4 linked regions of the Homo sapiens genome follow. The protein of the gene in region 4 interacts with the protein of the main gene of each other region in a pairwise test. Each region holds a gene or a part of one and is shown on either strand. Other genes may lie near its edges. The genes, in order: ASB12, PHOSPHO2, AIF1L and TSEN15.

Region 1 (7,232 bases), on a different chromosome or scaffold from region 4:
AATATTTGTGTTCTCTTCTCCAACCTCTTCTCTCCAGTCGCTCTCACCTTTATTCTGATTATTTTAAGCGTCTCTATCCGAGCCCCCAGCTCTCTCTTTAGCTCCAGGCATGTATCCACTGAGTTTCTTCAAGCACTTCAAAGACAGCAGTATCACATCACCACCACTACCACCATGACTAAACTTGATCCATATATCATTTCCTCACCATCTACCTGGTCAACCAAACCAAAAACCAAGACTCCTGTCAATGCTCTTGCCTCTTTATCCCACTCTCATAAAATCCCATCAAGTCCTGTGGATTTTACCTACTAAAGACTTCTCCAGACCATCTGTGCTCTTCAGGGACCATTCTCATTGACTATGCTTCATCTAGGCCCCCACTGCCTTTTGCCTCAGCAGTTATAGTGGTCTCATAGGTAGTTTCTCTTTTCAATATTTTCTCCACATTGTTGCTAAAGTGGTAATTTAAAAATACATATCTGATCTCTACCAATCCTCTGTTTTAAATACCTTAATGGCTCCCCTTTCTTTCCAGCTACAGCCCAAATACTTTAGCCCAGCTCAGAGGTCCTTCATGAATAAATCTTGGCCAATCTCTCCAGCCTCACTTCCTACTACTCCTTGACTTATATCCTGAGGTCCAGTGACAAGAGACAAAAAGTGATGGCTCTCCATATACACCATGTTTCTTTCTGCCACATGCAACTCCTTCTGCCAAGTTAATTCCTGCAGAGTCTGTGTTATAGCACTATAGCAGTCATCACACTGTATTGTAACTTCTATATGGGTCTTTGTTTGCCCTAGTGCAGATAAAGAGGCCTTATGTGGTAGTGGCAAAACATGGGAGTTCTGCTTCTACCCCAGCTCTAGCATTTAGTAGCTGTGTGACCTGGGGCAGGTCACTTAATCTCTCTGTGCCCATTTCTTCATCTGTAAAGACAAAATAACAATAGTATCTGCCTTGGAGGGTTCTTAGGATTAAATGAGTTAGTACATAGTAAGTGCTTAGAATAGTGCCTGAAAGTAGTTCTCAGTAACTATTTTTACTATGATGATGATTGTTACTTATGTCTCCATTTTCTAAGGCTATTGCTCCCTACTTAATGTTCTAGAACCTCAGAGCTGCAAGGGACCTTGTAGATCATTTAATTTAATTTTTTCAATTTACAGATGGGGAAACCAAGGTTCAGAGCAGAGCAGGGACTTTGGTAAGGTCACATGGTTGTTATTGTTAGTTGTCTCATTAACAAGAACTCAGAACACACTTATAATCCTGTGCTTTTCAAAGCAATTTCATGTAACAAAATAGGTAATATTATCCCCATTTTTTGGATGGAGGAAACTGAGTCCAGAGAGGGTAAGGGGTTTTCCATATACCTTACATCAAGGCAAAAGCAGAGTCAGAAATAGAATCCAGGTTTCTCTACTCCTCCTCCTGTTCTTTCTATTACAAGATGAAACACAAACACATACCCCCCTCCCTTGACTCCAGCAGTCACATTGCAGCTCCCAGGATCTTCAGCTTTTGAGTGTCATGCTGAATTCCAGGGTCTTCGGTAATGGAAGGTTCCTTTACAAATAATTTATTCTGATAACTGGTAGGAATTCCCTCCTTAATATTTTATTTTGGCGACTGGGATCTGGGCAGATAATTGGCAGGGAGTGGCAGAGGGAAGTGCTGAAGTTCTTGCTAAGGTTCATACCAAGAGCCCACAGCAGAGCTCATATAATGAGCCTCCAGAGGGAGACCAAGCCATGCTCTCCAGCTGGCTGTGGCACTGGAGTGAATCGTGCCTCCATTAGATAAGGACAAGGAAATCCAGCTAGCCTGTTGTCTTACCTCACTTTGCTGTAGTTTATTAATCAAAGAGTTACTATGTGCCTGTTATGTGCACGTAGCTCCTTCCTGATCCTAAAGATGTAGGAGTTTTAAACCTTTTTTTTTGTGATATTGGTTCCTGTGACAAACTAGCAAAGTCTGTAAACACCTTTCAGAATGGTTTTTGCTACATAAAACACATAAAATTAAAGGAAACCAATTATATTAAAATGTGACTGTCAAAATATTTTTAAATGCATGATATAGTAAGAGATGTTCTTTAGTAACACATTAAATAAAAAGGTCTAGTAATAATTTCTAAGTGGTAATAAATGACATTTCAAGATCTCTGCCACAACTGTAATATGATATGAAATATCTGTGGTTTCTTCTGGTAACCAAATTACATGAACTGGTTATGCTACTGCCATTTGATACCTGCATTCATCCTTGAAGGAAATAGTACATTTTAGTTAGAGGTTAGGGGGAAAAAAGGTAATTGTCTATTCATCCAAGTTTCTGGACCCCTTGAATTCTATCTAAGGCCCTCTTGGTGTCTGTCAATCCAGGTTAAGTACTCCCACAGGAAAGTGGTTGGTTTCCGTGCATCCTAGAGCATTCCTTCAGGCATTAGCAGAACGTTTTTAAGCCTCATCTTCCTTCTCTCACCCTTACGAGTTCTGCCCTTATGCCCTTAAACCCACTCTAAGGCACCCACACACACAGACTAGCCAACACCACACAGGGACACAAAGACAAATCTCCACACTTCCTGTAGTGTATAATCACAATTGCTCTCAAGAAGCAGGTCTGTTTAGACCCGAGGTCCTAGGCAGACATATCCTCTTGGGACACACAAGGCAGGGAGCTGGCATTATATCCCTCCTCCCTCCTCCTGGTGGGTTGCCCTAACGACCTTCCAAGCGCCTCCCCCAACTCCCACCACGTCCCAGACCCAGCGGAAACAGCCTACAACGGGAAGTGGGTGATCACAGGTCTGTGGGCCCGCAGTGGTCACTCTTCTCAAACCGGTCCTAGGCTCCAGGTACTCACCGGGCTTCAGCCTGAGGCCATGCTGCCCAGGGTCGCTGCCCCCCGCCCCTCTGTGAAACATTGGGGCCCTGGTGTCCCCTCCTTAGGGAGCCCCCACGGCCCCAACCTGGAGCAGCTGGGGCTCTCGTTTCCCACTGTTAACAATGCCGTTGAAAGACTAGGAGTCAGTCCCTAGTCTTGGTCCAAGGGGCTAATTTTAGGCTACCCTCCACCCCCTCTTCCCAGGCCGTGTTATCTTACCAGTGCCATTCTGGGAGCGATTTCAGTAAGAGGAGGGGCTCTCCCATGGGGAAGTCCTGGAAGGACTGACTGACAGATAGACAGGTGCCTGGTGAGGCTAGGGTTCCTGCTCCCAGCCTATCCTCCTATATCCCTCCCTGCCACTCAAATGGGAGACAGGGTGAGGCCCCTGAGCTGCGGTTGTTCCCACACCTCCACCAGGGGGCACTGAGAAGGTCCAGCCTCAGCCTAGCACACTTTTTTTTTCTCTTTTTTTTTTTTCTAATTATACTTTAAGTTTTAGGGTACATGTGCACAACGTGCAGGTTAGTTACATATGTATACATGTGCCATGTTGGTATGCTGCACCCAGTAACTCGTCATTTAACATTAGGTATATCTCCAAATGCTATCCCTCCCACCTCCCCCCACCCCACAACAGGCCCCGGTGTGTGATGTTCCCCTTCCTGTGTCCATGTGTTCTCATTGTTCAATTCCCACCTATGAGTGAGAACATGCAGTGTTTGGTTTTTTGTCCTTGCGATAGTTTGCTGAGAATGATGGTTTCCAGCTTCATCCATGTCCCTACAAAGGACATGAACTCATCATTTTTTATGGCTGCGTAGTATTCCATGGTGTATATGTGCCACATTTTCTTAATCCAGTCTATCATTGTTGGACATTTGGCTTGGTTCCAAGTCTTTGCTATTGTGAACAGTGCTGCAGTAAACATACGTGTGCATGTGTCTTTACAGCTGCATGATTTATAATCCTTTGGGTATATACCCAGTAATGGGATTGCTGGGTCAAATGGTATTTCTAGTTCTATATCCCTGAGGAATCTCTTCTTTTTTCTCTTCTGAACTGAGCCTCTCTGCATATCCTCCAACTCGTTGCCCCTCCCCTTCCTTCACTGCTCAGAGTGAGGAGGAAGGTAGGAAGGAGAAGCCTCCATAACAGAATGTGTTCTCACTCAGCTTTTCTAAAGCTTAAGAAGGCCTTGGTCATTTATAAAGACCTTCCCAGTCCACTGACCCACCAGGCTCAGCCTGAAGAAAATGCCCACAACCTCCCACTATCCTCACCCTAAAGCATCACCATTACTTTAATGTGTCCAGCACTGGAAACTTTGTCAAAAACTCAGCTCTCACTTTTTCTGCCCCAAAACAGCCCTCTAGGGATCTGAACCCAGATATTATATCCTCCATGTCACCTTGTTTCAGGGAAAACAGCCCCAGCTCCTTCAACTATTTCTTTCAATCTGTTATCTATTTAGTTCCCTCCCCAGTCTTGTCTACCTCACTCATGAAGTGGTCAAGCAATCTGCTTGCACATTGATAGTGCCAGGGAGCTCACAGAAGACCAGATAACTCCTCTGGAAAATGTGGGAATGTCCTAGTGTGATCAGTGACTCTGAAGATCAGAAACATCAAAAAGCATACCAGTTTCAGCTTAGCTTGAGCCAGGGGACTTTGTCTGAGGCCTCATGCAAGCCCAATTAGCAGTCAACAAATAAGCTATTATGATGCTAAAGATGACAGAGTAAGGTGTTATTCTTGAAAAAAAGATTTGCAGGATTTTTTAATGTAAGTTTTTGTTGAGATAATTGTAATTCACATGTGGTTGTGGAATTAATACAGATTCCAAGTACACTTTACTGAGTTTCTCCCAATGCTAACATCCTGCAATACTATAGTACAATATCTCAAGTATGACATTGGCATTGATACAATCCACTTATCTTATTTAAATCTCCCCAGGTTTACTTGTACTTTTTTGTGTCTGTGTGCGTACATTTAATTCTATACAATTTTATTACATGTAGCTTGTGTATACCACCTTAGACAATATACAGAATAGTTCTATCCCAATTAGGATATTTCACATTGCCTTTTATAGCCATATCTACTTCCTTCCTACTTCCTTTCCATTCTTCCCACCTTGGTACCTAACCCCTGGAAACCTCTAATCTGTTCTTCATATCTATAATTTCAAAATTATATGAATGAAACCATACATGATATAAACATTTGGAATTAGGTTTTTCACTCAGCATGTCCTTGAAATTAATTCAAGTTGCTGTATGTATCAAGTTTGTTTATTTTTATTGCTAAATGTGATTTATAGTAGGTATGTAGCATAATTTGTTTAATTATTGACCGATTGAAGGACATGTGGGTTCTATTTACTATCTGTCTACTATGAATAAAGCTGCTATGAACATCTGTGTACAGGTCTTTATCATTGTCGTTTTATAGTAGAGTAGATTGACTCCTTTAGCTTTACTATTTCATTTCAAGATTGTTTTAGCTATTTTAGTATCTGCACCTCTTTATATAAATTTTAGAACCAGCTTGTCTATGCCTACAAAAAACCTCTTTGAGATTTTGATAGAAATTGTGTTAAATCTATATATCAGTTTGGTTATATATATCAGAGTGCTTTGTTATACTGAGTCTTCCAGTGTATGCACATGATATGTTTTTACATTTATTTAGGTCTTCTTTGATTTCTTTTATCAGCATTTCTGATTTTTCAGCATATGGATTGTATATTTTGTTAAGAATATACCTAAATATTTCAATTTCTGTGGTGCAAATGACATTGGATTTTGATTTGGGTTTCCATATATTTGGTTCTTCTTGTTCCATATGTTTGTTTCTTCTTAGAAATGCAATTGGTTCACATGCACATGTATGTTTATTGCAGCACTATTTGCAATAGAAAAGACATGGAACCAACACAGATGCCCATCAATGATAGACTGGATAAATAAAATGTGGTACATATACACCATGGAATACTATGCAGCCATAAAAAAGAGTGAGATCATGTCCTTTGCAGGGACATGGATGAAGCTCGAAGCCAAATCCTCAGCAAACTAACACAGGAGCAGAAAACCAAACATTGCAGATTCTCACTCATAAGTGGGAGTTGAACAGTGAGAACATATGGACACGGGGAGGGGGACAACACACACTGGGGCCTGCTGGGAGGTAGGGGGCAAGGGGAGGGAGAGAATGAGGACAAATATCTAATGCTTGTGGGGTTTCAAACCTAGATAATGGGTTGATAGGTGCAGCAAACCATCATGGCACATGTAACAAACCTGCATGTTCTGCACATGTATCCTGGAACTTAAAGTAAAATTAAATTAAATTTTAAAAAAAGAAATGCGTTTTTTTGTGTGTGTGTTGATCTTGTATCCTAACTGAACTCCTTAGTCACAGGAAAGATTTTGTAGTTGTTGATTGTTTACTTTTGTTTTTGTTTTTTGGTAAGTTTATTGGGATTTTCTACATAGCCATTCATGCCATCTGCAAATGAGGGCAATTTTATTTTTCCTTTTCCAATCTGTATGCCTTATTTGTTTTATTTGCCTTAATACAATAGCCAGAACATCCAAGACTATGTTGAATAAGAGTTGTGAGAGTGGACATGTGTGCCTTTTCCCAGTCTTAGAGAATTAGCATTCAGTCGTTCACAATTAGGTATGATGTTAATTGTACATGTTTCAAAGATGCCCTTTATCAAGCTTATGAAATTCTCTTCATAGTTTTCTGAGTTTATCAGGAATGAATGTTAAATTTTGTTAAATGCTTTTTTTTCTCCATCAGCTGATGTGATCATTTCATTTTGCTTTCTTTAATCTCTTGACTGGTGGATTATGTTTGTTAGTTTCAAATGTTGAACCAGACTTGCATTCTTGGAATGATCCGCATTTGGTAATGGCATATAACTCTTTTTTTATGCATTGTGGGATTCAGTTTGCTAATACTTTTGGTGAGGAATTTTGTATCTGACTTGATGAGAAATATTGGTTTGTAGTTTTCTTTTTTTGTTCTGTCTTTGGTTTTAGTATCAGAGTAATAATGACCTCATAAAATGAGTTGGGAAATGTTCTCTCCTTTTCTATTTCTGGAAGAAATTGTGTAAAATTGGTGTGAATTCTTCTTTACATTTTTGGTAGAATTGTCCAGTGAAACTGCCTGGACCCAGAGATTTCTTTTTCCGAAAACTTTAAATAATAAACTGCATTTCTTTAATGGGTATAGGATTATTCATATAACCTATTTCACCTCTTTTAAAGTTTTGATAGTTTGTGGTTTTTGAAAAATTGGTCCGTTTTTTCTAAGTT
Region 2 (4,771 bases), on a different chromosome or scaffold from region 4:
AAATATGCTTACTTGCTCCAGGAATAAATTAAAAAATATAAACTATCAACCACCTTTAGTGGAGACCACTAGCTGTACCTAACTCAATTCTGTACTTTTTTCCCCAACTTTTCCTGGGCACATGACTACCTGGAATGAAAGCTATATTTTCCATCCTTCCTTGCTATTTACAAGTAAGGCATTATGACTAAGTTTGGCCAGTGACATTTAAATAGAAGTGTTGGGTACAACTTCTGGGAAATTTCTTTAGACAGGGGATGTAACTTTCTCACTGCCCTCTTTCTTGCTGGCCAGAGTGCTGCTGTGAGGGCTAGAGCTTCACCAGCAACCTTGGATCATGGGTTGAATGCCAAGTGCTGAGGTTGGTAGACTAACACAGCAACCCTGAAATACTTACCTCTGGAATTCTTTCATGTGAGAGGAAAAAAAAATTCTCTCTCTTTTTTTTTTTTAAGCCTCTGGTATTTGGGGTTTTAGTTTTATGCTGCTGAACCTAATCTTAAGTGATACACTTTTCAATTGCTGACATATTAATCCTTTATTAGAAATTGTAAATGAGAAATTATATCAACACCTGAGGACCAAACTACAACAGAATATTCCATAGGCTCAAGATTTTGAGACATTCTGGAAAGAGTTTTCTGTAAGGTATATCCTTTCCGTGGCATGGCAACATCATCATTCTTTAAAAAGGTGACTGGACAGACATCATTTCCACCATCACCAATATAAACAATTTGTGTATAATTCACTCCCTGTTGTAACTGTTTATCTACAAATTCTATCAAAACTACCTTTTTGCAAAGATTCTTTGGGCATCTATTGCAAGAATGAGTATGATAATTTTCAACAGTGAGATGACCATTGCTATTAAAAGCTGCTGGATTTGTAAACACTTTATCAAATATGTCATGAAAACTGGCAGCTTCTAAAACCCAATCTATGAAGACCGAATTTGAATCTGAAATAATAATGCAGTCAAATTTATCCTTATTCTTTCTTATAAAGTTGAAGAGTTCCACCATCCCTGGAGTGAAAGGCAATGATGTCACTGCTCTTTTCATTTCATGTTCTCTTACACCCTTATCTCCCAAATACTTAAAGACTCTGCCCATAAATTCTGTCCAAAATCCTTTTCGATAAGAATCACGTAGTTCAATAGGAAGCTTTTTGTTGGGAGCACATTGTACAATCCAAGTGTCACTATTGTCATCTATGATTGTATTGTCAAAGTCAAAAACTAGCAAAATTTTCATGGTTCCAGAAATAGATTTGGATTACCCTGAAAAAGAAGAAATATTATTCCCTAAACAAACTCTGTTTACATATCTAGCTAAAATACTTATTTAATAAACATAACTAAATGTTAATCTGCTAAAGGGAGGAATATAAACAAAGTAATTAAGCACTTCAAGACCACTACCTAACCACTTTTCTCTAAGAAGCAAAGTTCGTATTTGAGTATTTTAAGTGGAAAACAAAATATATAAAAAGGACATTCATAGTATTATTGTGTTCCTGGAGGTGTGTTTCTTATAGAATTTATAAGAAAGAAAAAAAAGCATTTCTTACTATCATTAAATTATCAATCAAACCACACTTATTTTATTAGATTAAAATATTTACAATCCTCATATTAAATAACAGATCATGTATAAAGGACTCTCTGTGTACTAACCAAAATTCTGAACAAATTTAACATAACATGAAATCTTGGAAGATGTAAAATAACTTTTTAAGAAAAGGTATTTAGTAACAAAAACAAGCAATGGGGAAAGGATTCCCTATTTAATAAATGGTGCTGGGATAACTGGCTAGCCATATGCAGAAAACAAACTGGACCCCTTCCTTAACACCATATACAAAAATCAACTCAAGGTGGATTAAAGACTTAAGTGTAAAACCCAACACTATAAAAAACCTAGAAGAAAATCTAGGCAATACAATTCAGGACACAGCAAAGGCAAAGGTTTCATGACAAAGATGCCAAAAGCAAATGCAACAACAGCAAAAATTGACAAATGGTATCTAATTAAACTAAAGAGCTTCTGCACAGCAAAAGAAACTATCAACAGAGTAAACAGACAACTTAGAGAATGGGAGAAAATTTTTGCAATTTATCCATCTGACAAAGGTCTAATATCCAGCAACTATTATAAAGTTGAAAAGTTCCACCATCCCTGAAGTGAAAGGCATCGATGTCACTGCTCTTTTCATTTTATCTTCTCTTACACCTTTAGCTCCCAAATAGTTAAAGACTCTGCCCATAAAATCTGTCCAAAATCCTTTTTGATAAGAATCATGTAGTTCCTTGATAAGGAACTTAAACAAATTTACAAGAAAAAACAAACAGCCCCATTAAGAAGTGGGCAAAGACACAAACAGACAATTCTGGAAAGAAGACAATACATGTGCCCAAGAAATATATGAAAAAAAAGCTCAACATCACTGATCATTAGAGAAATGCAAACTAAAGCCACAACGAGATACCATCTTATACTAGTCAGAATGGCTATTATTAAAAAGCCAAAAAATAACAGATGCTGGCAAGGTTGTGGAGAAAAAGGAACACTTTTACACTGTTGGTAGGAGTGTAAATTAAATTAGTTCAACCATCGTGGAAGACAGTGTGGTGATTCCTCAAAGACGTAGAGGCAGAAATACCACTTGACCCAGTAATCCCATTACTGGGTATATACCCAAAGGAATGTAAATCATTCTATTATAAAGATACATGCAAGCGTATGTTCACTGCAGCACTGTTCACAATAGCAAAGACATGGGATCAACCTAAATGCCCATCAATGACAGACTGGATAAAGAAAATGAGGTACTTATACACCATGGAATATTATGCAGCTATAAAAAGGAATGAGATGATGTCCTTTACAGGGACATGGATGGATCTGGAAGCCATTATCCTCAGCAAACTAACACAGGAACAACAACAAGAAAAACCAAACACCATGTGTTCTCACTTATAAGTGGGAGCTGAATCATGAGAACACGTGGAAGGGAATAACATACCCTGGGACCTGTCAGAGGGTGGGGGTGGGAGGAGGCAGAGCATCAGGAAAACAGCTAGTGGATGCTGGGCTCAATACCTAGGTGATGTGATGATCTGTGCAGCAAACCATCAGGGCACACACTTACCTATGTAACAAATCTACACATCCTGCACATGTACCCCTGAACTTAAAAGGTGGAAATCAAAAAAATTAAAAAAGTATTTAGCTTAAAATCAATTTCTAAATATCAATATTATAAGTAAATGATTGCTGACACTCTATATGATATTCTAAACAAATTACCTGAGAACTGGAGGCCAATTTAATTCTTCCAAACTAGAAGTAACTTGGTTAAGAGTTTTCACATGTTTATTTATAGCTGCTCTAGATAGTTTAGCTCTGGGGTGCCAAATAATTTGAATACACCTGAGTAATCATACTGTTTGTGGTGTGACAATTACTTATGTCTCTGTTTTCATTAGAATATAATGAAGGTGATTAATTATAAATCTCAAGAGAAAAGGAAAGAATAAGCTGGTCAACTGATGGTAAGAATAAACATTATTTATAAAAAATAACTATATAGAATATCCAGAAAAGGATATAATTAATGTGTGTAAACAGATAATAATAATAATTTTGAGAGTCATTATATGTCAGGCACTGACCTAAAAACTTTGCAATATCATACCATTTAATTGTCACAACCCTATTAAGTAGGAATCATTATTATCCTCATCTTAAAGATATATAAGCTGGATCTTGAAGTGGTTAGGTGTTAGTAAAGTGCCAGAGCTGGAATCTTAGGTTGATTTGATTCCAGACTTCATGCTTTTAAGTACCAAATTCTAGTGTTAAAAAATAGAATATTTAATGACTACTCATTAGTTTAAAAATATAACACTAAGTAGGTAATTTTGGCAGAAAGATATTTAATTACATAAAAACATTCATTACTTTCAAAGTACACACTAACCATAACACCACATCTGTGATACTCTTTATAACCATTTTGAGGTTTTTACAAGAAATCCTAAAAAGGCAAAGAACCACAGCAATAAGAAAAAGATCAATTAAAAATGAAAAACATGGCATTTAACCACACATATTCTCCAGTTTATAACAGTAGACACCCAGTAGTGAAGACAGAATAGAGCTCTTGACTCACATAAGACTAAGTATTCTGTGTCTCTTAATTTAGAATATCTAGAGAATAATTAACCTATAGGGGTATCACCTGTTGTGTGAATGTGGCTGGTACATAGTTTTTGTTATTCTGGATCCTTGTATCACTAAATGCCTAATCCAGATGCTTCTGACTGGTTCCCTGAAATTTAAATGCAGAATTCACTTTCCTACAGAAACAATGTAATAAATAATAAGGCATAATTGACAATCACAGTAGTACTGTAACTAGGCACATTTTAAATTAAATATGCTTTTTGAGAATTCTGAATTTATAATTAAAACAAATTTCAAATGTAACTCACTGTTGTTTGAAAACTGCCTCAAACCTAAACTTAATTAGCCACAAATTACTGAAATTCCTGAATTATTAGCCTCAAAATAGCATGAGACTGAGGTAACATAGTTCCCCTGCTGATCTGAAAGTGCACTTTTAAAATTTTCCCATCTTTTTCTGTTAGTATTTTCTCACCACTCAACATAAACCTTTAAAAAATACTTACCCAACTTAGTATTTCCAAGACAATCTTACTTCAGCATTGGGATTAGGATAAACAATCATGACAATCTTCAGTTTT
Region 3 (7,031 bases), on a different chromosome or scaffold from region 4:
CGTTCTTAACCATTATGCTTTTTTTTTTTTTTTTTTTTTTTGAGATGGAGTCTCATTCTGTCACCAAGGCTTGAGTGCAGTGGCTTGATCTCAGCTCACTGCAACCTCTGCCTCCTGGGTTCAAGCAATCCTCCTGTCTCAGCCTCCCGAGTAGCTGGCATTACAGGCACCCACCACCACATACAGCTAATTTTTGTATTTTTAATAGAGATGGGGTTTCGCCATGTTGGCCGGGCTGGTCTTGGACTCCCGACCTCAGGTGATCCACCCACCTCGGCCTCCCAAAGTGCTGGGATTACAGGTGTGAGCCACCGTGCCTGGCCTCCCCACCCTTTCAAAATTGCACCCCCTCCCCACAGCTGAGCACTCCTGTCCTCCCTCCCTCATTTCTCACTGAAGCACCTACCACAGTCTGCTAACCTTGTATTTCCCGGCTCTCTGTTTAGTCTCCCACCACCTCTCACACCGCCCCCCGAGCGAGAACACAGGCTCCCGGGTGGGAGCTGCCTTTTACGTTCACCATGGTGCCCCTGGCCTGGAATGGTCCTGGCACATGTACAGGTGCGCATTTGGAGAACAAATGAGTGAATGATGTAACTTCCTGTCTGGCCCAACATTCCAGTGAAGACAAGTAGAAAGGGTGCCAGAGCCCTGAGACCCGTGCCTCCTCCCAGAGCCACCCCTGGGAGTGGCCACGCTGGTATGCAGACAGAAGGGAATAGACTGCTCTCTTTTTCACAGCTCTCCTACAGGTGGCTGGGATGGGGTGGGGTCAGGAGTGTCTTTTACTATTTCCCTTCTCTCTTCTTCATGTAAAAAGCATCATAGCGTAACAGTTGAGAGCAGGGGCTTTGGAGCCAGACCGACATGAGTTCAAGTCCCAACTCTGCCCTAGGCGAGCTATGTGTCCCCATGCCAACAACCCCGCCCTCCAAGCCCGAGTTTCTCCATCTGCACATTAACAAGTGCGCCATCTTCCTCCAGGCCGATTGGGGTGATGTGGGGAGCTCGCCACGCCGCACGAGAAGTGCTTCACACAGGCCGACGTCCAACAAATGCCAGCTGTTATTAATATGATTAGCCCTAGATGTCCAGCCTAAGGACAACTGGAAGTGATTTGAGGAACACTTGGCCAAGTTCTTTGCCCTGGAGCCGGGAGGATGCTCACACTGCAAACACTTTGGAGGGGAATGCAACCTCCAGGATATTTTCCATGACAGCCCAGGGCTCCTGCGCCTAAGTGCCTCCCCTGGCAGGGAAGGTGGGTCTGCGCTGCCCCCTATGTGCCCGGCTCCTCTCCTTTCGAGGTGCTGGCTGGGAACCAAGCGCCAGGGCCCCAAACAGAGGGACCTTTATGCTGCCCCTCTCCCCGCGCCGGCTCCCAGGCCCTGCTTTCTTTTCATCCCGTGCTGCCGGGTTTCAATGGGCAGAAACTCTGCCCCCCTGCCCCACTGCGGTGACACAAACGTCCATTCTCCGCAGGGGCTCCTGAGACGCTCTGCTGGGGAGGGGGAGAGGCAAGGCTTGCTCACAAAGAGCTGATTGTGTGCGGGGCCCGGGAGTGACGGGGCCTGGGCAGCGGCGGACGGGAACCAGCCTGAGCCCCGTGGGCAGTGAGGGGAGAGAGAGGGGCAGGGCCAGGACCGGGCTGCAGGCGAGGGGTGACGGGGCCCGCAGGGGCAGGGAGGCAGGTGGAGGGGCCTCTCCCCACCTCTCAGGGGGTCCCTGTCTCCAAGCCTTCTCCAGGAAGAAGGGCATTCTGGACAAAACAGGGCCACAGCCTAGTCCTGTGGGGCTGAGGGGTCCTGTGTGCAAGGATGAGGGGCCAGCCCACCTCCCCCAGGAATAAATGCAGGGCAGCCCGCCCCAGCTTACCTTTGAAGGCTGTGAGCTTTTCTGGAAGGTTCTCTTCATCACTGTACTTCTGGTCACACAGAAACTCCTACAGAGGTGAGAGGACAGTGCTGAGCAAGGGACTGGGGACAGAAGTCACCCACACATGGGCCCACTGTCCGGGGGCCTTCCCTCCTATCGGGTAACCAGGTGCGACCAGACCCAGTTTGTCCCTTGTTCACCCCGGCTTCCTGTCGCCCCTTGGAGGCAGATCTGCACTGGCCACCCTGTGGGTAGGAAGTTTGCCCAGCAGCTTGGGGAGGCCCCAGAGGGTTCACTACGGGTGACTAAGCCCTCCAGCCAGCAGCTACATTACCAATGCTGGGACCCGTGCCCCTCCCCCAAGACACCCCAGCTTCAGATCCGAGAAGCTGTGAGCTCCAAAGACAAGCCCCTGGTTCCATCATTAACTTCTTAGGAATGTGATCCTGAGCTCATTCATTCCTCCGTGCACTTTTTTTTTTTTTTTTTTAAGAAGTCTTGCTCTTGTCCCCCAGGCTGGTGTGCAATGGCGCGATCTCAGCTCACTGCAACCTCCACCTCCTGGGTTCAAGCGATTCTCCTGCCTCAGCCTCCCCAGTAGCTGGGATTACAGGCGCCTGCCACCATGCCCAGCTAATTTTTGTATTTTTAGTAGAGACGGGGTTTCACCATGTTGGCCAGGCTGGTCTCGAACTCCTGACCTCAGTTGATCCCCCCGCTCCCACCCCTCCGCCTCAGACTCCCAAAGTGCTGGGATTACAGGTGTGAGCCACCGCGCCCGGCCCTCCCCACACTTCTATTGCCTTATCTACCAAATGAGAATCATGATCTGCTTCTTGAGTTTGTATAGAAATCCAGTGAGGCCAGGTGCGGCGGTTCACGCCTGTAATCCCAGCATTTTGGGAGGCCAAGGTGGGCCGATCACCTGAGGTCAGGGGCTCGAGACCAGCCTGGCCAACATAGTGAAACCCCGTCTCTATAAAAATACAAAAATTAGTTGGGCATAGAGGTGGGCACCTGTGATCCCAGCTACTTGGGAGGCTGAGGCAGGAGAATAGCTTAAACCTGGGAGGTGGAGGTTGCAGTGAGCTGAGATCATGCCACTGTACTCCAGCCTGGGAGACAGAGAGAGACTCCATCTTAAAAAAAAAAAAAAAAGAAAAGAAAAAAGAAATCCAGTGAGAGTGTGAATTCGTCGTCTCTGCTCTAACGGGAAAATGACTGTACACTTACCCTCTCACCTGTTTCCTCACCTGTAAAATGGGGGTTTTAATCTCTGGCCTGCCTTCCCTTCAGATGCTTGGAGAGACTCAAATGAGTCCTTTCAGGACCAGATGGGCAGGGTGGGGAGGATTGGACACTAACAATGGCCTCCAGGGTGAAGCCCTTACCTATGTGATCTCTTCACATCTCCTAGGAGTCCCAAGAGGGAGCTATTGTTATTATTATTTTGAAACAGGGTCTTGCTCTGTCATCCAGGCTGGAATGCAGTGATGCAATCTCAGCTCACTGTAACCTCCGCCTCCCGATCTCAAGTGATCCTCCCACCTCAGCCTCCTGAGTAGCTGGGACTACAGATGGGCGCCACACCACGGCTGGCTTATTTTTGTATTTTTTGTAGAGACAGGGTTTCACTCTGTTGCCCAGGCTGGTCCCAAACTCCTGGACTCAAGTGATCTGCCCGCCTCGGCCTCCCAAAGTGCTGGGATTACAGGTGTGAGCCACGGCGCCCGGCCAGTAGCTACTATTATTATACCCATTTTGCAGGTGAGGAAACTGAGGCTCATAAGCCAGAGCTTCAACTCGGCTCCATCTCATTTGGAGCCTGCATCCTTAGCCCCTACATTCTTTAAAGGTGGGCAGATTGCAGGTGTTCATCTGGCCTGGTCTCTGACCTTACAGCAAAAAGCGACCAATGAGGGAACACCTGCCAGATACAGTGCCAGGTAACTTATGTATCTTGCGGCTAATCTTTCAGCAGCCCTGGAACCTGTATTCAGATGGGGAAGCACAGGGCCTGTTCCCCTCCTACCACTCGAACTCTGCAAATAACCCCTCTTCTTTGGAGCTTCCATTCTTTTTTTGTTTTTGTTTTTGTTTTTTTGAGACGGAGTCTCGCTCTTGTCACCCAGGCTGGAGTCCAGTGGCGCAATGTTGGCTCACTGCAACCTCTGCCTCTCAGGTTCAAATGATTCTTGTGCCTCAGCCTCCCAAGTAGCTGGGACTACAGGAGTGTGCCACCATGCTCGGCTAATTTTTGTATTTTTAGTAGAGACGGGATTTTACCATGTTGGCCAGGCTGGTCTTGAACTCCTGGCCTCATGTGATCCGCCCACCTCGACCTCCCAAAGTGCTGGGATTACAGGTGTGAGCCACTGAGCCCGGCCAGTGGACCTTCCATTCTTCATTACTGAGCTCACTGGACATGGACATTGCTCCTTCATTCATTCATTCATTCATTCATTCACTCATTCAACATTCTGGGGGGACACAGTGCACACAGCACTCACTGTGCTAGCATCAAGGGAGCAGAGGAGACCATGGTGAATATGACAAGGTCCTTATCCTGAAATTACAGAAAGCTGGTGTTTAAAATGATGTGCAATGTCACCCACATTAATCACTTGACCTACTTCCTAATACATGATGGCCAAGTCTGTTCTTACATATCTCTTAGGACAGAGAACTCACTACCTTCCTAGTCTATTGTTGCAAACTCCTAAGAGGCTTCAAGCAGAATAGAGGATGACAAGAACTAACTGACTATAAAGCAATCTGGGTTTGGATCTCAGTCTCCCTTTTTACTAGCTCTAAAATAGGTTCAATAGTACCCACTCCTTGGGCACTGGGCTCATAGTTCAGCTCTCAATGAGCAACAGATAAGATTATGAGTATGAGGCAGAATATGGCCTCTTCTATGGCTCAAATTTCTCCACATTAACTCAGCACCCCTTGACCACAGGAGAAACCTACCTGGCAACAGGGCTTCCCTCACTGGGTTGGGAGAGGGGTCTGGCTGTCCTGTAGCTTTTGGTAAAACATTGGCTGTAGCAGACACTGTGCTATCTCACTAAATCCTCACAGCCACTATTATTCCCATTTTACAAGTTAAAACATGAGGATGAGAGGGGTTAAATACCACATCTAAAGTCCATAGACAGGCCAAACGCAGTGAGTGGCTCACGTCTGTAATCCCAGCACTTTGGGAGGCCGAGGTGAGCAAATCCCTTGAGGTCAGGAGCTCAAGAACAGCCTGGCCAACATGGTGAAACCCTGTCTCTACTAAAAGTCCAAAAATTAGCCGGGCATGGGGGCGTGTGCCTGTAATCCCAGCTACTTGGGAGGCTGAGGCAGGAGAATCACTTGCACCTGGGAAGTGGAGGTTGCCGGGAGCCGAGATTGTGCCACTGCATTCCAGCCCGGGCCACAGACTCCATCTCAAAAAAAAAAAAAAAAAAAAAAAGGTTCACAGACAGCTAAGGAAGGTTGGTTTCGAACCTGGGTCTATCTGACTCCAGGACCTGTGTCCTCCTGCACCTGGGCAGAGGGCAGTCCCAGGGCCTATGGGGTCTTGCTGGCTTGGCCACAGCCTCACTCCAGGCCTCATTGCAATGCACTGGGCACGGCCCCGCCTCCACTTAGCTGACGCTGGATCCTTCTTCGGCAGCCTGGGAGGCCGCCCTCCTCCTAGTTGGCTCTGTCGAGGACTTCCTTTCCTCTTGGCTCCCTCTCATAGCTCTTCGGCACTGCTCCCTCACCCCATCCTCTGCCCAAAAGGAGGACAATTAACTTTTGTCTGTGACTGTGAGCAAACCAGGCACCTCCCAGGGTCCCAGATCCCATATCTGCCCAGTGAAGGGACATATTAGATCAGTGATTCCCAGACTTTGGGGTCACGCAGACATGAAACATTTTTAAAGGCGGGGCAGAGGGGCGCACTAATATACGAGTGCCAACTTTTTATTTTGCCAAGTAAAGACTTTTTAAACAATGGCCATTGACTGTTGCCATGAGTTCAGAAAAGAACATTTCATAAAAGTAGGAAGTTCACCATCTCTGAATGTTTAAATGGAATCCATTCAGCCTAGGTCCAACTCACCACAGTGACCCTGCATTTCCTTCACTTTACCAAGAACTAGAGAACCTTCCTGGGGAGGCACAAGAGCACCAACATCTGGGAACCTCTGGGGAGAGATTTGGAGGGGCTGTCCCAGCCCCTGGGGTCTGGTTGACCAGAAATCCTGCCTCAGCCTGGACCGACCAGCCCTAGAGATCCAGTTTTACTTGGGCCACTCTGTAGGTGGATGGGTGCAAGTGGAAGGACATGGTCCCTGGCCTTAGAGACAAATTGCACACAGACAGACACAGACCAACCAGGCAGGGATGAAGAGCAAGGCCACGTGCACAGCATGAACGGCAGCAGTGGTTGGGAAGATTGCCCTGGGCTGCACCCTGCACTAGCTGTGCACCCTGCCTGGAGTCCACAGATCTGCGTGGTTCTCTCCCTCACCAACTTCAAGCCTTTGCTCAATGTCACCTTGTCTTTTTTGTTTTGTTTTATTTTTGTTTTTTGGGACGGAGTCTCACTCTGTCGCCAGGCTGGAGTGCAGTGGCGCGATCTCAGCTCACTGCAACTTCCCCCTCCCGAGTTCAAGCAATTCTCCTGCCTCAGCCTCCCCAGTAGCTGGGACTACAGGTGCGCACCAACACGTCCAGCTAATTTTTGTTTTAGTAGAGATGCGGTTTCACCATATGGAGCAGTTCGGTCTCAAATTCCTGACCTCAGGTGATCCGACTGCCTCGGCCTCCCAAATTCCTGGCATCACAGGCGTGAGCCACCACACCCAGCCTCAATGTCACCTTCTCAATGCGGCCGAATGTCACCTTCTCAATGCGGCCGACCCTATTTATTCTTTGTTGGCACGATCACAGCTCACTGCAGCCTCGACCTGCCTGGGCTCAAACAATCCTCCCACCTCAGCCCTCCAGAGCAGCTAGAACTACGGGTGTATGCCACCACACCCAGCTAATGTTTGTATTTTTTGTAGAGATGGGGTCTCCCTCTGTTGCCCAGGCTGGTCTTAAACTCCTGGGCTCAAGTGATCTGCCTGCCTCGGCCTCCCAAAGTGCTAGGATTATAGGTGTGAGCCACCATG
Region 4 (7,926 bases):
TTTACTTCATGCCAGCTTTTGCCTGAAAGAGCATCATTGAATGGACAATAATGTTTATTAAATACAAAAAATAAAAACTCCAAACTTCTACCTAATACTCAGCTGAGCAAATATCACTCGTAACACTACCTCCTGTCTTTGCTTTTCTAGTAGCTTCTGTTACTCAGTAATTCCCAATGTAAATAAATAAATTGCAAAATTAACAGCAAATGCATAAAAGATTGCTTATTATGTTAAGAATGCTATATCCCAATCCAACCCCCCAAATCTCTACCACAGTCCCAATAACAAAACAATATAAACAAACAACTTACTTTCCATGAGGTCCAGGTAAACCAAGAACGCTACATAAACTTGGGTGGCATCTCCTATATCTAATTCCATCATTTCTAGATACTGAAAATTAAAATATAATTGTCAAATTGAGAAGAAAAAATTATTTAATATTTTCTTCCAATCATCAAGTGGTCATCAAGCATATATAATCTATAAAATTCTTCTAGGTATAGTGGAAGTTAAAAGGCAATATAAGATCTTATCTCTGTCTCTAAAGAACTTGCAATTGTTAAATACATGCACACTTAAAATTGTTAGGCAAATAACAATATATGACTGTAAGTGATTAAAAACCATGTAAATGGAATAAAAAACATGACACAGCAGGTCAGAAGAGCTCTACTCAGAGGGACTGGTGAAAGATTTATAGCAGAGGTGGGATGGGATACAAGTTGAGCACTGAAGAACATTATGATTTAAGTAAGTGGAGAAGTAGAGTAATACTGCAGGTAATTACACAAAGGTGGGATTAAGCCACATACATTCAAGGGCCTGTAAAGAAACCTATCTGCCAGCAATAGAGAAACCTTTTTAATAAAACTTGTGATGGGACATGTTAGTGGGTACTGTGTATTTCCCTAGCCTCTTATTTGTATATGGAGAGAATCTGCTAGAGTATCAGTCCTAGCCTCTCTACCCACTCTTTCTCACTTTAAGAGTAGATTTTTTAAAAGGAATTGACAAGGAACTAGAGAAAGCTGCTTCTTTCAGACTACTGGTCAGCATAAGGGGAATACTTTTCAGGGGCCTACACCTGCAGGAGAATTCTGAGGCTGCCCAGCTATGCCAGCGACTAGGTGGATATGCAGGGCTAATGCTGAGTTGAATTATTAGCAGACCTGCATGGGGACAGGTCTAAAGTCACATTCTCCCATCAGCTTCACTGTAACTGTACAGGTTCAGGAGGACAGGGGTTAATTAGTTGTCGACTTCAAACATGTTTTGAAAATAACACCCAAAACATAATTTTGAGCCAGGTTACAAGGCTTTGGTGGTCAAGCTAAACATGTGATTTTATCAGTATGGAAACACTGAGGATTTCTAAGCAGGAGAATAATAAAATAAAAGTGTGTTTGGGGATAATAAATCTGGTACCATTTTACTGGATGAAACTACATAATTTTTAAATTAACAGAAAGGTGAAATTGGAAAAACAAATACCCCCTATTATTTTATTACTTGTTCTTTTTCTTTTAAAAATTAATTTGATCCTTCAAGAAGAGAAATCAAAAGGGGAGATTTGATGGTCAAGGTGTATACAGCCATTAACTTGAAAAAGAAAACAATCTACAAGTATATAAACTGAATAACACCACCAAATCTAGATAAAGTCTTAAAAAGTTGTTACTGGTGTTTCGCTTATTAAGTACTTATATAGTGCTTTCTGTATGTTGAATGGCTTACAAATATTCATTAATTTAATCCTGTAACAACCGTATAAGTAAGTATGGACTATTAATATCCCCATTTTTCAGGTGAGGAAACTAAGGCATAATAAGATCAAGCAACTTGTCCCAAATCACAAGGTTGATAAGTGACAGAATCAGGATTTAAACTGAGTCTGATTTTGAGTTCATGCGCCTAACCAATATGCTGCCTCTCCATGCTATTGTTTCCCTAAAAGGGCACTAAATAATATTTCCATGCTATTGTTTCTTTTTCTCACCTTTTGGGAGGATGAAGGGGACAGAGTAGGAAGATAAAATTAAGCAAGAGAAGCTGAAAAAGGTTAACTCTTCAAACTTATACCTTCAAATTTTTTCTTGGCTGTTTTTAGATGATTATGAATTATTGCTCTCTAGCAGAAGAGTGCAATTCTGTTAAAGTACCGTAGAGACTAGTTTTTGAGATTCTTACAAAACCCACATCTCCATTCACTGTCTATTCACTGCTTGGAACCGTACTTGTACAAGGCAGTAATGTCTCAAGCAGAAGTAAGCAGAGGACTATCTTGATCTCGCCTGCTGCTAATCTAGAAAAATACACGCAAAATGTGAGTAGCTCTGCTTTGAGCAAGAACCTATTCAAACTTTCGAAGAAATCTGAAATATTAGGAATCTGCACCTTTTCAAAATAAAGATGCATTCTGGGCCCAAGGCTAAGTGTAAACGTGACTGTGCTTAAATCTTTATCACTATGGACCCCTAGATCTTATCCATCGCCCACAAATTGTCTTGCATGGTTACCGTGAGGATTAAATAAATTTATCCCCCAAAGGGGATTTACCTAGACAGCAAAACTAGTGGAGCGCTTATTAGGGATCTCCGGCTTGAGAGGGGCGGAGTTACTGTCTGGCTCTCAGTTCCAAAATGGCTTTGGCTGGGGGATTGAGATAGTGCAACTTGTTTAAACAAACAAAACCGATGCTGCCTGAGGCTGGCAGTTGTGCACACCGGTCCCCCTCGGTGAGGGTGGCGCGCGTCCTCAGTCTCCCACTGAGGAAGAAAGAAAGAGAGCTGCCTGGGAGTGTTCTGCCTGGGTTAGGGGCCTGGACGGCGCCCTGCTCCTCTCGCGCCTCCTGACCTTAGGGTGAGTGCCCATCCAGGCGTCCTCAGGGGCCCACGAAGGAGCTCCACCGCCGTCGCCAAAGCCGCGAACACCGCCCGGACCCAGGCCGCTGCAGCCGGGGGTCGGCTCGGAATCGCCGCGCTCCTCCATGCCGGCCGGTGCGGCGCTCCCGTGGTGCACCACGACCCGCGCCCGGCCAGAAGCAGCGGCGCGCGCGCCTGTGGGTTCCGCTTCCCCGAGGCTCGCAGCTGCAGTGCGAGAGGGCTCAGAAACTGGGAGGAAAGTTGCATCAGCCCCTCCTTCTGACCAAGGTAGCTAGAACCTGCGCGAACGCTCTCTAGTTTCGCTCTGCGTTTATTCAAATCTGAGCAAATTCTAACGTGAAAAATATTAAAGAGTAGCCTGCGCCCTGAAGCTCTTAATCCTCTTTAAGTCAGTGCTGCCGATAACTCTCTGAGAAAGTTGGGGGATACATACGTCCTCTTTGCCTTCAGCAGTGGGGTCCTGGTTTCTGATTGCTGGGGACGGGAAAGGCCTTACTCAGTGCCCTGACATAGAACTTTAAAGTAGAACCATACTTTCAGGGTGGACCCACGTTTCAGGATTAGAGGAAACACGAGTTGCTGAACGAGTGTTCAGAAAGGTAGGATACAAACTAGCATAAGCATGTGATCTGGAAGCCAAGGATGAGGAGTTTCAAACAGGCAGAGTAGCACATTTTAAGTATTTTTTAATTTACTGTGAGTGAAATGGGAAGCTATTGGAGGCTCCTGGACGTTTTCATAGGATCACTCTGACTGATATGTTGAGGATAGACTGGAGGGAGCAAGGACACAAACAGAGACTGGTTAGGAGGCTATCGCATTGACCAGGACAAGGGTGACTCAAAATCCAAAGTCCCAGGCAGGACATAACTTCTGTTTTCAACCATGATAGACTAAGACCCTAGTGGACCATCCCCCAGCAGAAAACAATTTGGACACAATGCAAAAAGCTGAATATACTGGAATGTGAATAGTGGACTGGTAGGAAGGGCAAGCTTGCTTGAAGATCAGGAACTACACTTGGACACAATACAAAAAGCTGAATATACTGGAATGTGAACAGCAGACTGGTAGGAAGGGCAAGCTTGCTTGAAGATCAAGAACTCCACAAGAAAATTCTCCTCTCTTTGGCATTTAGCTTGGGGCAAAGTGCAGTCCAGAAGTCAGGCTCAGCAGTACCAGGGATGCATGTATAAAACTTATCAGTTATTCTTGTCTGGGGAAGCAGAAAAGTGAAGACAGAAAATTTTGAATTCTGAAGAGATTAAGAAATCCCAAGGAAGGAGTCAGAGAGTGGATCCCCAAACTGTCAACCCACATCTCTGAGAGATCCTGAACCACCCAAAACAGAATCACAGCAGCTCAGTTAAAAACAAAAGATCTGAACTGAGACCAGAGCTGTCTCCAAAAGGGAGAGAGTTTTCAGTTAAAATCTAGCCGGGAAAATTACCTACTAATACAAAGGAAATAACACTCATCAGAGAAGAATAATAGAATCCAGACTCTCCACTTAACACTCACAAAGTCCAGAGTACTATCCAAAACTATCTGACATATGAAATTCAAGGAAATGGATCGCATACTCTAGAGATCAACCCTGAGATGAATCAGATATTGAAACTGACAGATAAGGATTTTAAAGTGACTATTATAACTATCCTCAATGAAGTAAAACATGTTTTCAATGAATGAAAATCTCAGGAGACAAATAGAAAATCTCAGCAAAGAAAAAGAAAAAAAAAGATTTTTAAAACCAAATGGAAATTCTGAAAATTGAAAATTATAATTTTAGAAATAAAAAATTCACTGGGTGAATTTAACAGCCAAAAAAAATTACAAAAGAAAAAGTAGGGAACTTGAAGATAGAGCAATAGAAATTATTAAAAGTAAACAACAAAGAGAAAAATTATCTTTAAAAAGTGAGTAGACCAACAGAGATTTGCTACATGTCAGACAATCCAACATGCATGTAAACAACAGAAGTAGAAAAAAAAAGGGACAGAAAAAATTTTTGAAGAAAGAGTGGTGGCCAGAATTTCCCCAAATTTGATGAAAAACACATTTACTAGTACAAAATGCTAAATACATAGCAACTAAAATAAACACAAAGAAGTCTACATTGTAATAAAACTATTGAAAGTCAAAAAAATAAAGAGAAAAGCTTGAATGCATCAAAAGAAATAACACATCATACACAGGGAAAAGAAGGGCATCTATTATTGAATGAAATGTAAAGCCACACATGAAGATTCATATGTTGCCCTCAAATACATTACATTTGAATGAACCTTTGCCACCACAAAGCAGCTGCTAAGCCCGAAAGAAGAAAATGGCACTGAAATTAATTGGGTCATTGAAGCATGAAACACTGACACGAATTCAAGTGATTGGAAGTGAATAAATCTCTCTGACTCCTAAAGATCCAAATCAGTTCATATGATGGCATTTTTAAAAGCATTAAGAGTATTTTGATGCTAATCTGAGTAGAGGGAAACTTTTATAAATCAGTAAGGATATCCAATGGGATTAGGGACTATATGAACCAGCCTCAAACATCTGCAGGGGAAGAATTTCAGCTTATGTTCAAGAAAAAATAATTGGGGGTATGGAAAGAACCATAAACCAAAAAAGCAACAGATAAATGCCATCCTTTGGCAAATAGATTAAATACTGTTGCTTAGAAAAAGCATGATACATTCAAGAATGAGTATTACGTGCTTTTCAAAAGAGTTGAAGAATGAAAAGGGAGTGTCTGTTAGCTTCCCTGTTAATGTAAATTTTTAAATAGGTCTTGGTGATTGTGAATGGCTAAGAATGAACACAAAGGATTTGGGAACACTTAGACAACCCAGTATTTAAAGTACAGAATCAAAATACCTATTGTGACAATCTAGAGTGAAATCCACTAGAGAACAGAGGAGAGTTTCAGTGTCTGGTATCCTGGAGGATTTCTCATTTTGTAAATGCTTCAATAGTTCACTCTATTAGAGAACCAAAGTAGTGAGAAAAAAAAGCTAGATAAGAAACAACGAATGAAATCCCCCCTGAGTATATTGGATTTAATCAAATTCATTGTAATCTGGCACTTGCTGAACTCATTTCCCAATGATATCCTGAGCCAGATCATTTTATTCCTACAAAAATCTGTAATGTCTAGCCAGAGACATATTAATTCAGTAAGAGTCTCGAGGAAATGCGAACACTAAATTGTGATGTGAATCTCTAGTGTGGAAAGAAAATTTAAAAAAGAAGAAGAAAAGCTTTTACACAGTATTGTATGAGACAGTGATTCCAAGCTGAAAAATGTAGCCTAGCATTCTGGATCAGCTTTTCATTCATTGGTTGTAAGGAGGTTCACATATATCTTGTTCCTTTTTTTGTACACAAAACACACAATTTCCTATTCTCTGTGTTTCAAGAACAGAGAAAGATTCAAGAAAGAGAATGATTCAATATTGTAAAGATGGCAATTTCCTCCAAAGTTATTTACAGATTCTATCAATTCCAATTAAAATCCCAAAAAGTATTTTCTTAATACCTGATAAACTGATTCTGAAATGTGGGCATAAAGGGCCAAAAATAACCAAGACCCTTTTTGTGAACAAAAGGGAGAGAACTTACGAAGTTAAAGTTCTGAAATATAAATATCTTATAAAGATAAGGTTTTAAACAAAATTTAAATTCTTACAAAGATCTCTAATTACAAGTATGTGATATTGGCACATGGATAGGTAAAACCAATGAAGCAAAATAGGGAGCCAGGCAACAGACCCATACACATGTGGGCAGATGCAAGAAGGGAAGGAGAGAAGGGGTGATTGGCTACACGGTATAGGCAAACACTTTTAAATCTCTAGGAGAAAATATAAAAGAATATTTTATGACCCCAAGTTTAAGAGTGATTTCTTAAGACACAAAAAGCACAAACCATATGCTTCACTCATGTCCCTGTGAAGACACCACCAAACAGGCTTTGTGTGAGCAACAAGGCTGTTTATTCCACCTGGGTGCAGGTGGGCTGAGTCTGAAAATAGAGTCAGCGAAGGGAAATAGGGGTGGAGCCGTTTTATAGGATTTGGGTAGGTAAAGGAAAATTACAGTCAAAGGGGGTTGTTCTCTGGCGGGCAGGGGTCGGGGAGGGGGGGGTCACAAGGTGCTCAGTGGGGGAGCTTTTGAGCCAGGATGAGCCAGGAGAAGGAATTTCACAAGGTAATGTCATCAGTTAAGGCAGGAAGAGGCCATCTTCACTTCTTTTGTGATTCTTTAGTTATTTCAGGCCATCTGGATGTATATGTGCAGGTCACGGGGAATATGATGGCTTAGCTTGGGCTCAGAGGCCTGACAATATGGAAAAAATTTGGTAAATTTAACTGTATCTCAGTTAAGAATTTCCAACACTAAGAGAGTGGAAGGAAAATGACATCTGTAACACACAATTGAAAGAAAAGATACCCAGAATATATACAGAACTCCTAAAAATCAATTAGGAAACAAAACAAAACACTCCTTAGGTTAAAAAAAAGAAAGTAAACAGAAAAAAAGACATAAAAGGCCAGCAAACATAACTTGATGTTCAGCAACATTGATTGAGTGAGAAAATGTAAATTGAGGCAAGAAGATACCATAATACACCTATCAGATTAGCAACAAAAGCCAAGAGTTGGCAGAAAAGTAGACCAAAGGGAAGATGCACAAATCCTATGATCCAACAATTCTAATCCCAGGTATATATTCTAGAGCAATATTTTTAAATGAAGTGCCAGGACCTGTTAGTGGTTGTGAAATACACTAGTTATTTTAGTTATGTTAGTGGTTAGTGGGTTGAGTACAGTTTTCAAAAAGTAATTATTTAAAACACACATAGAGTTTCAATCAACAACTTGAATGAATCTCATAAAAACTAAAAACCTAATGTATAGTCAAAATGTTAGTTATAGAAGCGTATATAAGATATTTGATTTGTTTAAAATTCTAATATAGCAGCTGTATTTATAATAGCCCAGAAGTGGAAACAACCCAAATGTCCCTCAGCTGATGA

The links.
Region 1: the proteins of TSEN15 (region 4) and ASB12 interact in binary tests that used the Homo sapiens proteins (3 or more experiments, as listed by UniProt).
Region 2: the proteins of TSEN15 (region 4) and PHOSPHO2 interact in binary tests that used the Homo sapiens proteins (3 or more experiments, as listed by UniProt).
Region 3: the proteins of TSEN15 (region 4) and AIF1L interact in binary tests that used the Homo sapiens proteins (3 or more experiments, as listed by UniProt).

The regions. Positions count from the first base shown.
Region 1 is NC_000023.11:64,227,588-64,234,819, forward strand, and holds the start of ASB12 (ankyrin repeat and SOCS box protein 12), read right to left. Parts: upstream 3,021-7,232; 5' UTR 2,876-3,020; intron 1-2,875. UniProt on the Homo sapiens protein: Probable substrate-recognition component of a SCF-like ECS (Elongin-Cullin-SOCS-box protein) E3 ubiquitin-protein ligase complex which mediates the ubiquitination and subsequent proteasomal degradation of target proteins.
Region 2 is NC_000002.12:169,697,457-169,702,227, reverse strand, and holds the end of PHOSPHO2 (pyridoxal phosphate phosphatase PHOSPHO2), read right to left. Parts: 5' UTR 4,697-4,771; intron 4,364-4,696; exon of another isoform or gene 4,246-4,363; intron 1,283-4,245; 5' UTR 1,257-1,282; coding exon 531-1,256; 3' UTR 520-530; downstream 1-519. UniProt on the Homo sapiens protein: Phosphatase that has high activity toward pyridoxal 5'-phosphate (PLP).
Region 3 is NC_000009.12:131,106,508-131,113,538, reverse strand, and holds part of AIF1L (allograft inflammatory factor 1-like), read right to left. Parts: intron 1,943-7,031; coding exon 1,876-1,942; intron 1-1,875. UniProt on the Homo sapiens protein: Actin-binding protein that promotes actin bundling. May neither bind calcium nor depend on calcium for function.
Region 4 is NC_000001.11:184,046,824-184,054,749, reverse strand, and holds the start of TSEN15 (tRNA-splicing endonuclease subunit Sen15), read right to left. Parts: upstream 3,021-7,926; 5' UTR 2,995-3,020; coding exon 2,860-2,994; intron 397-2,859; coding exon 315-396; intron 23-314; coding exon 1-22. UniProt on the Homo sapiens protein: Non-catalytic subunit of the tRNA-splicing endonuclease complex, a complex responsible for identification and cleavage of the splice sites in pre-tRNA. It cleaves pre-tRNA at the 5' and 3' splice sites to release the intron.